Homo sapiens: one gene and its partners. The protein of the gene in region 3 purifies or fractionates together with the protein of the main gene of each other region. This does not show direct contact. Each region holds a gene or a part of one and is shown on either strand. Other genes may lie near its edges.

Region 1 (3,500 bases), on a different chromosome or scaffold from region 3:
AAAAGCAAGGTATAGCATGTATATGGTATGTTGTTATAGTTACCATTTGTCTACAAAGGGGAAAAAAGAATATATAGATATGTAGTCACACAAAAAACTGCTAATAATTGCCACTGGCTAGCAGGAAGAACGGGGTAACTATTAAGCTGAGTAGGAGGAAACTTTTTCCACTATATACTTTTTTTTTTTTGAGACAGAGTCTTGCTCTGTCACCCAGGCTAGAGTACAGTGGCACAATCTCAGCTCACTGCAACCTCCACCTCCCAGGTTCAAGCAAATCTCCCGCCTCAGCCTCCCAAGTAACTGAGATTACAGGCACTAGCCACCACGCCCAGCTAATTTTTTGTATTTTTAGTAGAGACGGGGTTTCACCATGTTGCCCAGACTGGTCTCGAACTCCTGACCTCAGGTGATCCACTTGCCTCGGCCTCCCAAAGTGCTGGGATTACAGGTGTGAGCCACCATACCTGGCCTATACTTTTTGAACTTTGGAATTTTGAAGCTTATGAAAGTATGGACCTATTAAAAAAATTTTTTTATCTGGAATAAAAAAAACTACCCAAAATAATATTACTGATTTTTAAAAATCTATGTCTAAGGTAAACATATATGCTCAACTAATTTTTCTTTTCTACCTTCTAGGAATCATTATCTACTAAATGATGTAAAATGCAAAGGATACAATTTAGCAATATTTATCAAAAACCTATAGTATTTACTGTTGAACCCAGAAATATCGCTTCTGAGAATTTATCACGTAGGTGCACAACTTACCCACATATGAAGTATCTTACGTAGAACATTACTCATTGTAGCATTATTTAAAAGCACAAGAATGGAAAATATTTATGTGTCAATAGGGGACTGATCAAATATACTATATAGTATATCTACACAATAGAATACTCTAGCTATAAAAAAAGAGTCTCTAATAAAAAAAGATCTCTGGATATATTGTTAAAATTCAAAACCAGTACAGAAGAGTATAAACAGCAGACTGTGGAAAAGCAATGGGTGTCTGGGTGAAGGGCGAGTAGGTGGTAAATAGCTCTTCTCCAATAGGTTTTGGAACTGATTTTAGCACTATGTAAATGTATTACTCATTCAAAAAAATTTCTAATGTAAAGATTATTTACACAGTGAGAAATATTTTAAACTAAGAAACGGTACTCTGTTTAGGAGGAAAATAAGTGACCCAATGGGCTAAATAAAAGTAGCCTTGGCCTATTACCTAATTTGAGATGGGAAGATAACTGGTATTTCATTTAAAACAATTTGAAATTTTTATCTTACCTATATTTCATAATTTCCACTATATCCTCAGCGTCTTCTTTGGTTGCTTCCTCTCTCAATTCCAACCTTGCTCGTGCCTTTAAAAGAAAACACCATTTTCAGATGACGAAAGATGAATATATTTACCATAGTATGTCTAAGCTTTACTTCATTTACTTGTTTTACACAAAAACTGACCTTTAGGCGAGGAAGGTTATAACATCAAAAGTCAAAATATGGAAGTAATTCTCTGGGCTGGGGGTGGTGGCTCACGCCTATAAACCCAGCACTTTGGGAGGCTGAGGTGGGAGGATCACTTGAGCCCAGGAGTTCGAGACCAGCCTGAGCAACAAAGTGAGGACCTGTCTCTACAAAAAAATTTTCAAATTAGCTGGGTGCGGTGGTGTATGCCTGTAGTCCCAGCTACTTGGGAAGCTGAGGTGGGAGGATCCCTTGAGCCTGGGAGGAGAGGCTGCAATGAGGCTTGATCATGCCACTGAACTCCAGCCTAGGTGACAGAGGGAGACCCTGACTCAGGGCAAACAAACAAAAAAAATCTGTGAAACCTTGACTATGAAAATTACAACTCACTTAAAATAAGGATAAACCTCATTTTTACTTGTTAACGTATATTTCTGAGTGATCATTTCAGGAGATTTGATGATGAAATACACTTGGTTTTCCCTTGCCTTTTACTTTTAGGAAATCATACCTAACCAATATGGTAAAACAACAAAGAAGAATTAATCAGATTTTAGGAGCAAAAAGCCCAAACTCTGAGCTAGCTAATTTTTACTGCCAGAGTTCTCTTAGTATTTCAAACTGTGAATAGATATTACTGCTGTTAAAAACACAGGAACTATCCTTGTGGACCTGTCATGTAAAAAAATAAAATACTCAAGATACCTGACACATTCCATGTTCCCATATACTCAACTTGGGTCTCATACTCCTAGTTAACCTAACCACTTTTCAGATATTCCAGGAGTCTCCTAAGAGTCAGTCAAAGAAAAACAAAAGAAAAGTTGCATGCTAAGTAATTGATTCTGTGACTAGAAAGAAGTAGCTATACTTGGATATGTTATAGACATGACAAAATCTTTTAAAAAACTTTCATCCATCCATTTCTAACATCTCTCTATAGAAAGGAAAATGGAGTCAATTATGCAGAAAATACTTCAAAAGAGAAGTCAAGGCACACCCTTCCCCTTTAAGCCAAAAAAAGCATGACCATAAAAAGAAACAAACCTCTGTCAGACGAATCAAAGATTCCAGCTGCCTGGTAGTGATTGGTGAGCTATTTAACCTCTGGCTCTGTTTCCGGAGCTCAAGGTAAAAATCTTGAAGAACTCGAGCAGCTTCTGTGGATAGCCTTGGGTACACATACTGCCGAGCATAGCCAATGTACTTTCTCAATAGCTGGTGGGGAATGGGATCTATTGTTTCTCCAGGAACCACCTGAAGCATGATTAAAAGGCCCAAGATAACAAGGATAAGTAGCAAATAAAATATTTCTGCTAAAATAACTTGTTTAGGCCAGGTGCAGTGGCTCACGCCTGTAATCCCTGCGCTTTGGGAGGCCAAGGAGGACACATCACCTGAGGTCAGGAGTTCAAGACTAGCCTGGCCAACACAGCAAAACCCCATCTCTACCAAAAATACAAAAATTAGCCGGGCGTGGTGGCACGTGCCTGGAGTCCCAGCTACTTGGGAGACTGAGGCAGGAGAATCACTTGAACCCGGGAGACAGAGGTTGCAGTGAGCCAAGATCACACCACTGCACTCCAGCCTGAGCGATAAGAGTGAGACTATGTCTCAGAATAAATAAATAACTTGTTTAGATAAATATACAATTCTAAAAGACTCTCCAAATCAACCAAACACTTTATCTGTAGGTCTCATCTTAGCTGACTTAGATTCCTTTTTTTTTTTTTTTTTGAGACAGTCTCGCTCTGTCACTCAGGCTGGAGTGCAGTGGTGAGATCTCAGCTCACTGCAACCTCCGCCTCCCAGGTTCAAGCAATTCTCCTGCCTCAGCCTCCCAAGTAGCTGGGATTACAGACACGCACCACCATGCCCAGCTAATTTTTGTATTTTTAGTAGAGATGGGGTTTCATCATGTTGGCCAGGATGGTCTCGATCTCTTGACCTCATGATCCACCTGCCTCGGCCTCCCAAAGTGCTGGGATTACCGGCATAAGCCACCACGCCAGGCCGACTTGGATTAT
Region 2 (3,500 bases), on a different chromosome or scaffold from region 3:
CATTTTTAAATAAGAAATACAAATAGTCCGTCTTCAGTGTGGGTTAAATGTGCTTTTGTGGGTTACTTAGGAACCGCTTATTACATTGTTCTATGGCAAATTATATTCCAAGTTCTAAACAACTGTCTTTACAAAAGCCATTTTGACACATAAATTATAAGATGTGGACTGTCCAGAATTTTTCCTTGTCACTAATTTTTTAAAAGGGAATTTAGTTTTTGGTAAAAATGCCTTGTTTATCTTTCTCTTATTTATTTAATCAGTGTCTTCTTGTGCCACTTGCCACAAATAAAGATTCTCAAACATTTTCAGCCTCAGGGAATGAAGTAGCTGCTAGCTAGAAATAGATCAGGGATTAACAAATGTAATACATGTTGCTGATGTCATAGGGCTGTGACTTGGGAGGCAGACATCCCACTATAACTAAAAATGGGCATCAAGTGCACAGCATACAAATTTACAGATTCAAATTTTTACATTTGTTATTGCCAATGAATATGTCACATTATTTTGAGAACTAGCCCATCATTAATTAGTTTAAAAACAATATCTAAGTTATGTCACATCCATCCCTATCCTGCCACGCTCCATTTAGGACTACCTTGTCCCTCTACTGGACCATTGTACTAGAGCCCCTACCCTGCATCCTGTCCACAGTCCTTTCCTGTCCAACCCACTCACCAACCCAGTCCTCATCAGACTTCCCTTCACAATGGCTCCTCAAAAACTCAATGCCAAATCAATCATATTTTCTGATTTCCTTTCCCTCCCTCTTTCTCTCTTTTTTGTTTCTTTCGTGTTTAGAAAAAAAATCAAAACAAAATGAGTGAATACACAGAAAGTTTTTGCCTCAACCACTCACTATTCTCCAGAGTCATCCTCACTCTCTACCCTCACCCCCTCTGCAAATGCCTGTCTTTCTCCACCTAAAAATGTCCAGAGGTCTTGAAAGGTTCAGTTCAAAAGCTGCTTCACAGTGTTTGCTTCTGTGTTCATCTTTTCTATCCACATAGATGAATATACATCATCCCTATTTCCCCTGGGAACTTTATTCTTTTAGAACTTAACCATATTCTGCCTTGTGTTACATTATAGCTAGTAGATTGCAAGCCCCTTAAGAAGAGTTTGGTTTAATTTTGGATACTTCTTAGCACTTAGCAAAGGGGTCTCCTCATAGCAGGGGCATAAAAAGTGTTTATTGAACGGTTACTTCTCTTTAAGATAGAATAGTTTCAGTATACTTTGTTGGAAGTTGATGTTTGTGATATCTCCTTCTGTCATTCTACATTTTCTTTCATAGGAGTTCGTAGATTTTCAAGGTGCAAGAGCAGCCCCATTTTATTAACAGCTGTAATCTTGCATTTTATCTGAACCTCACAATCAGTGAATTGTACTGTCTCTCCTGGCAGCCTCGTGTGCAAGCTGAACACAAGGACCACCATCCTGGCAGCAACGAACCCCAAAGGCCAGTACGACCCCCAGGAGTCCGTGTCTGTGAACATTGCCCTCGGCAGCCCACTCTTAAGTCGATTTGACCTGATCCTGGTTTTGCTTGATACCAAGAATGAAGACTGGGATCGTATCATTTCCTCCTTTATCTTAGAAAATAAAGGTACGTGAAGACAAACAAAGCATTCAAAATAACAGAGAGATTAGCTGTAACTAAAAGAAATTCCCTTTCAAGAAAATTAAATAAATACCCAAGATAGGCTATGTAGTACCAGGCAATAGAGAAAAGCTTAGACAGAAAGCAGTGAGAGGAGCCACTTACGGGGCCTCAGAATACTGAGTTGAAGGAAAAGGGCCTTTCTCTACCTGCCACTAATGAGACTAAAGTTGTTATAAATATGTGCCTTATGATGAAAGGGGACAACCTTATGATACAGAATTAACGCTCACCTCTTGCATATAAAACCAGAATGAATTGTGAAACAAATCTCTAAATGTAGGCTTCTCTTTAAATCAGATTTACTCAGGCCGGGCGTGGTGGCTCACGCCTGTAATCCCAGCACTTTGGGAGGCTGAGACAGGTGGATCACCTGAGGTCAGGAGTTCAAGACCAGCCTAGCCAGCATGATGAAACCCCATCGCTACTAAAATTCAAAAATCAGCTGGGCGTGGTGGTGCACACCTGTAATCCCAGCTGCTGCAGAGGCTGAGGCAGGAGAATTGCTTGATCCCAGGAGGTAGAGGTTGCAGTGAACAGAGATCGTGCTACTGCGCTCCAGCCTGGGTGACAGAGTGAGACTCCATCTCAAAAAAAAAAAAATAGATGTATTTGAATATTATTGATTACTGGGCAGACCAGAATTATTCTGAATAATTTTTAATAAAGGCAGGAAGCTTACCTTTATTAAGCTTAGATCATAAGATGCTGATTGTATGCTATGCAGACAAGTCTAGATTTCAATAACCACAAAACATGAAGGTTATCTTTTAACAAATGAGTACCAGAACTTTATAAAAATCCTTAAAATGAGATGTTTGCCTGTCCTAAGAACTTACTGACCCAACACCTGATACATACAGGTTACCCAAGCAAATCAGAGAAGCTCTGGAGCATGGAAAAGATGAAAACCTATTTCTGCCTCATAAGGAATCTGCAGCCCACACTGTCTGATGTGGGCAATCAGGTTCTTCTCCGGTACTACCAGATGCAAAGGCAGAGTGATTGCCGGAACGCTGCCCGGACCACCATTCGGCTGTTGGAAAGCTTGATACGATTAGCAGAAGGTCTATTTCATTCAGCGAATGATGCTTGTATTGAATGCTGCGTGTGTGCAAGGCATGGGGCTTGGCACCATGGATTCAAAGTTGAATGAGAATAACTCCCACTCTAAGGTGCTCATAGTCACTTAAAAATAAAGGCTCTGAGCCAGAAGATCTCTGCTCCTCTGAGGACAGATTATGAGTATTGACTGGAATGTGGTGTCATTAAGAAAGAGGAATCTTTGTGCCATCTCGGGACCTCCTAGAACTTAATATACCATTCACTTAGAAAGCCTTACTTCTGATATTTTGTTTCTCAGTGGTAGCTCTGTTAGCATTTTGAGTAGGACAGTTTCTTGTTTGGAATTGTTTCCCATATAGCATCACTAGTTCTTGCTCATTAATTGCCAGTTGCAGTCCACCCCTGTCATTATAGCAACCAACTTGACAATGCCATGCCCTGCCCCATTACATATATACATATAGCTAACATGTATCTTAATTCTTTTCTTCTAACATTGGCTTTTACATTTTAGCTTTTGTTTAAATCTAAAAAAAGAATTCACATGAACTGAATAATAAAATAAAATAATACAAGCTTAATAAAAAATACTGTAAAACAAATGGACTTTCTTTTTTCAAGGATTTATAGCTAATATTAGGGCAAGAAATACTCAGAATTTAGAATTGCTTGTTTGGTAGCTTTGAAAAGCTCATAGATCATAAAGAGGAGTGCCAGAAATGAAAAATGAGTTTTAATTTTGTGTAGTTTTATAAAAGACTAGAAAATG
Region 3 (3,500 bases):
GGTTGCAGTGAGCCGAGATCACGACACTGCACTCCAGCCTGGGCAACAGAGCGAGAATCCGTCTCAAAAATAAAATAAAATAAAATAAAATAACATAAAATAACATAATAAAATAAAATAAAATAAAATCAGCTCCTGACTTTAACTGCATTGAAGCAGAAGGCTATCTACGCTTATTTTTTGTAACAGACTCAAAAAGTCTTAGGGGTAGGGATCCACCACATATATTTATAGGCTTCCAGAGTGGCTTAGCCATTTTGAAACCAGTCATATTCTATTTGGCATGCTTCTAGCTTTAACAATTAACCTTCTTACATTAATACATGCTTTGAATCCAGAGAGTATCTGCTGCTTTGGATCTGAAATGGACTGGCAGATCTGCGGAGCTACAGCAGAGAAAAAATACTGGGGAGAATTAAAAGCAAAACTGGGTTTGAGGGCAGAGCAGGTCAACCAGAACCCCAAGGAGAAGGGAAGCAGGGTCTCACCCACCAAAGGGAACCCAGCAAAGGCAAGAGAAGGCAGATCCTTCCCAGCTCAGTTCTCAGAAACCTGAGAGGAAGGGCTCCTGAGACACAATCTCATAATACTTATCACAGTCTCCTCCCCCAGGGGAAGCTGGAGCTAGCTGGGCCTTTATTTCTTAGATGGGAAAGAAGGCTGGACCCATGGCATCAGATAATACCTACCTGGCACCAGGACAGGCCTCACTTAATGCCAGTAAAATTGCTGCCTCCCCCAACTACCTGCCTCAAATGCCTTTTAGTGTGTGACACCAGCAAACAGGCCTAGCAGCATCAGCTCTTGATTCTTAACTCCTGAAACACACAGGGACGCCCCTCACTCTCAAATCACACCCAGAAAGTTAACATTTGCATAAGTTACCTCTGTCTGGAATTTAGCCAGAGCACCATGGGTTGGAGTTTGGGGCGCGGAAACCATGATGTCCTCCAGACTTCTCCCACTCTGCTAAGAGGGGAGGGAAGGAGAAGATGAGAGCAAGCTTAGCAGCTGTTATTTACAAGTACAGCTTATTGTCTGGTTTACATAATGAGTTCAGGAAATGATCAGGGACTATTAACACATATTACATCTCTCCTAACAAAGTCTCAGGAGCCTCTTTGGCAGCTCAAAAAAGATACTTTGGGGATTGGTTTGAAAACGTGAGGAAGCCGGAGCTCGCCCAGGTGCAAAAACCAGGGCTGCCTGAAGGGGGCAGTGACCCAAATAGAGAGGCCTGGCTGGGCGTGGCGGCTCACACCTGTAATCCCAGCACTTTGGGAGGCTGAGGCGGGTGGATCACCTGAGGTCAGGAGTTCGAGACCAGCCTGGCCAACATGGAGAAACCCCCATCTCTACCAAAAATACAAAAATTAGCCAGGCGTGGTGGCCCATGCCTGTAATGCCAGCTACTTGGAAGGCTGAGGCAGGAGAATCACTTGAAGCTGGGAGGTGGAGGTTGCAGTGAGCCGAGATTGTGCCACTGCACTCCTGCCTGGACGAGAGAGCAAGACTCTGTCTTAAAAAAAAAAAAAAAGAAAGAAAGAAAGAAAAATTGAGAGGCCTGTGATGAGCAAAGGGGCAGCTTTCCCCAAGTCCTAACCCTTTCCTCCAGGGAGATCCAGCCCAGGAGGAACATAGACGGCCTCTTTGGATATCTGCTAACATGCTAGGGAAGAGCAAGTAACAGGCAGAAATTGTTTCAAACACCCTTAAAATGGGAGGAAGAGGGCACACCTATCACAACCAGTCCAGATCCTCAGAGTCCAATTATCTGGGATCTGATCCAAGACTAGTTTAATCCAAGTCTCACCAGGGCTGTCTCCTTTTCAGCCCCAGCTTCCCCACACCTGCCACAATGAACTGTTCTGTGGATCTGAGAGCACCTTGCTCTTCTGCCTCTGTGCCCTTACACATGCTCTTCCCTGCTTTCCCACTGCCAGAACATCCACAGAGCACAGCGCCCGCTCCGCCACACACCTGTTAACCTCCTACTCATCCATCCAAAGCCCACTCAGCAAGCCTAAGGCAGAGCCAGTGTCTTCCCAGCACCCAGGGAATGACCCCTGTTCACACTGTGTGCTTTGTGCATGTTTGTTTGTTTACATCTGTTTCTTCCATTTCACTGTAAGTTCTTTAGGACAGGAACTGTTTCTTTTAATCTCTGTATTCTCAGTTCCAAGCAAATTGTCCAACACATAAGACCTTAACAAATGCACAAGAATGACTTCCTGCCCTAGTGCACACCTGTAGTCCCAGCTATATGGGAGGCTAAGGCGGGAGAATGGCTTGAGCCTAGTTCATGACCAGCCTGAGCAACATAGCCAATCTCTAATTCTTAAAAAAAGGAAAAGAGGGTCTTCTTAAAAAAAGGAAAAGAGGGTCAGGCGTGGTGGCTCACGCCTATAATCCCAGCACTTTGGGAGGCCGAGGCGGGCAGATCACTTGAGGTCAGGAGTTCGAGACCAGCCTGGCCAATATGGTGAAACTCTGTCTCTACCAAAAACACAAAAATTAGCCAGGCATGGTGGCGGGGGCCTGTAGTCCCAGCTACTCAAGAGGCTGAGGCAGGAGAATCGCTTAAACCCAGGAGGCAGAGGTTTCAGTGAGCTGAGATTGCGCCACTGCACTCCAGCCTGGATGTTGCAGCAAGACTCCATCTCAAAAAAAAAAAAGGAGAAGAAAAAAGAAAATTATGATGTCCTCAGAGCCTTAAGCACTTCTTCACAGTGGATTTTCTAGCATTCAGTTCTTCCCTTTTATTTCTCCTGCAGCTTTGAAAAGCCTCTCTGCACTTCCTTCCTTCCTTCTCTGCAAGAGGGAAGATATGCTAGGGCTGGACAGTGCTGGAACCCTGCTTCTCTCCCTTGCCCACCAAATCCTAGAAAGCCAGCTCACTCACCTGGTGAGGCAGGATCCCAGCTGGGCCAGGGAAACGGCGAGTTTTGGCTCGGGTGGAGGGATGGGTGGGCTGCTGGGGTGTCCGGCTGGCAGCAGTGACTAGCTGCACCAGGTGGTTGGTGACTATGGGTGTCTGCAGAGCTCCCTGGGGACCTTTTGGGGTACCAACAGGAGACCCAATGGAAGACACTGGAGCTTGCGGTTGTAAGGGTATCCGAGGAAATAATCCAGAGCTAGTCCTTGAGGGAGTAGAACAGCTTGAGTTGGGAGTTCGAGGTCTGGGTAAATGAGCTTTGCCACTTAACCAGGAACTTGGAGACTGGAATGGCTGACAAGGGAAACGATTTTGAGGGCTGCTCTGAATGGTCCCTCTAGCAGCTTGGAGAGGCTGAAGTGCTTGAACAGGGGAGCGTTGCGGACAGACTTCCCAGTGGAGTTGCTGAGTGGGAACTGTTAAGGCAGTTGGAACAGGAAGGTGACCCACAGCACCAGGTCTCAAGGGGGGTCGTGGAGTCCTACATTGGATGACAGGATCTAGAGACTCATCCTGGGCGGACATGATACCCGCTTTGTGGATGGCAGGCACAGGCCCCTTCTGG

What was found. Proteins that work in one complex are often made in the same cells at the same time.
Region 1: the proteins of HROB (region 3) and MCM8 purify together in Homo sapiens (affinity purification with western blotting; one study listed by BioGRID). This does not show direct contact.
Region 2: the proteins of HROB (region 3) and MCM9 purify together in Homo sapiens (affinity purification with western blotting, with the first as the bait; one study listed by BioGRID). This does not show direct contact.

What each region holds. Positions count from the first base shown.
Region 1 is NC_000020.11:5,985,152-5,988,651, reverse strand, and holds part of MCM8 (DNA helicase MCM8), read right to left. Parts: intron 2,731-3,500; coding exon 2,521-2,730; intron 1,371-2,520; coding exon 1,294-1,370; intron 1-1,293. UniProt on the Homo sapiens protein: Component of the MCM8-MCM9 complex, a complex involved in the repair of double-stranded DNA breaks (DBSs) and DNA interstrand cross-links (ICLs) by homologous recombination (HR).
Region 2 is NC_000006.12:118,827,160-118,830,659, reverse strand, and holds part of MCM9 (DNA helicase MCM9), read left to right. Parts: intron 1-1,409; coding exon 1,410-1,612; intron 1,613-2,529; coding exon 2,530-2,733; intron 2,734-3,500. UniProt on the Homo sapiens protein: Component of the MCM8-MCM9 complex, a complex involved in the repair of double-stranded DNA breaks (DBSs) and DNA interstrand cross-links (ICLs) by homologous recombination (HR).
Region 3 is NC_000017.11:44,148,430-44,151,929, reverse strand, and holds part of HROB (homologous recombination OB-fold protein), read right to left. Parts: coding exon 2,903-3,500; intron 970-2,902; coding exon 886-969; intron 880-885; exon of another isoform or gene 316-879; intron 1-315. UniProt on the Homo sapiens protein: DNA-binding protein involved in homologous recombination that acts by recruiting the MCM8-MCM9 helicase complex to sites of DNA damage to promote DNA repair synthesis.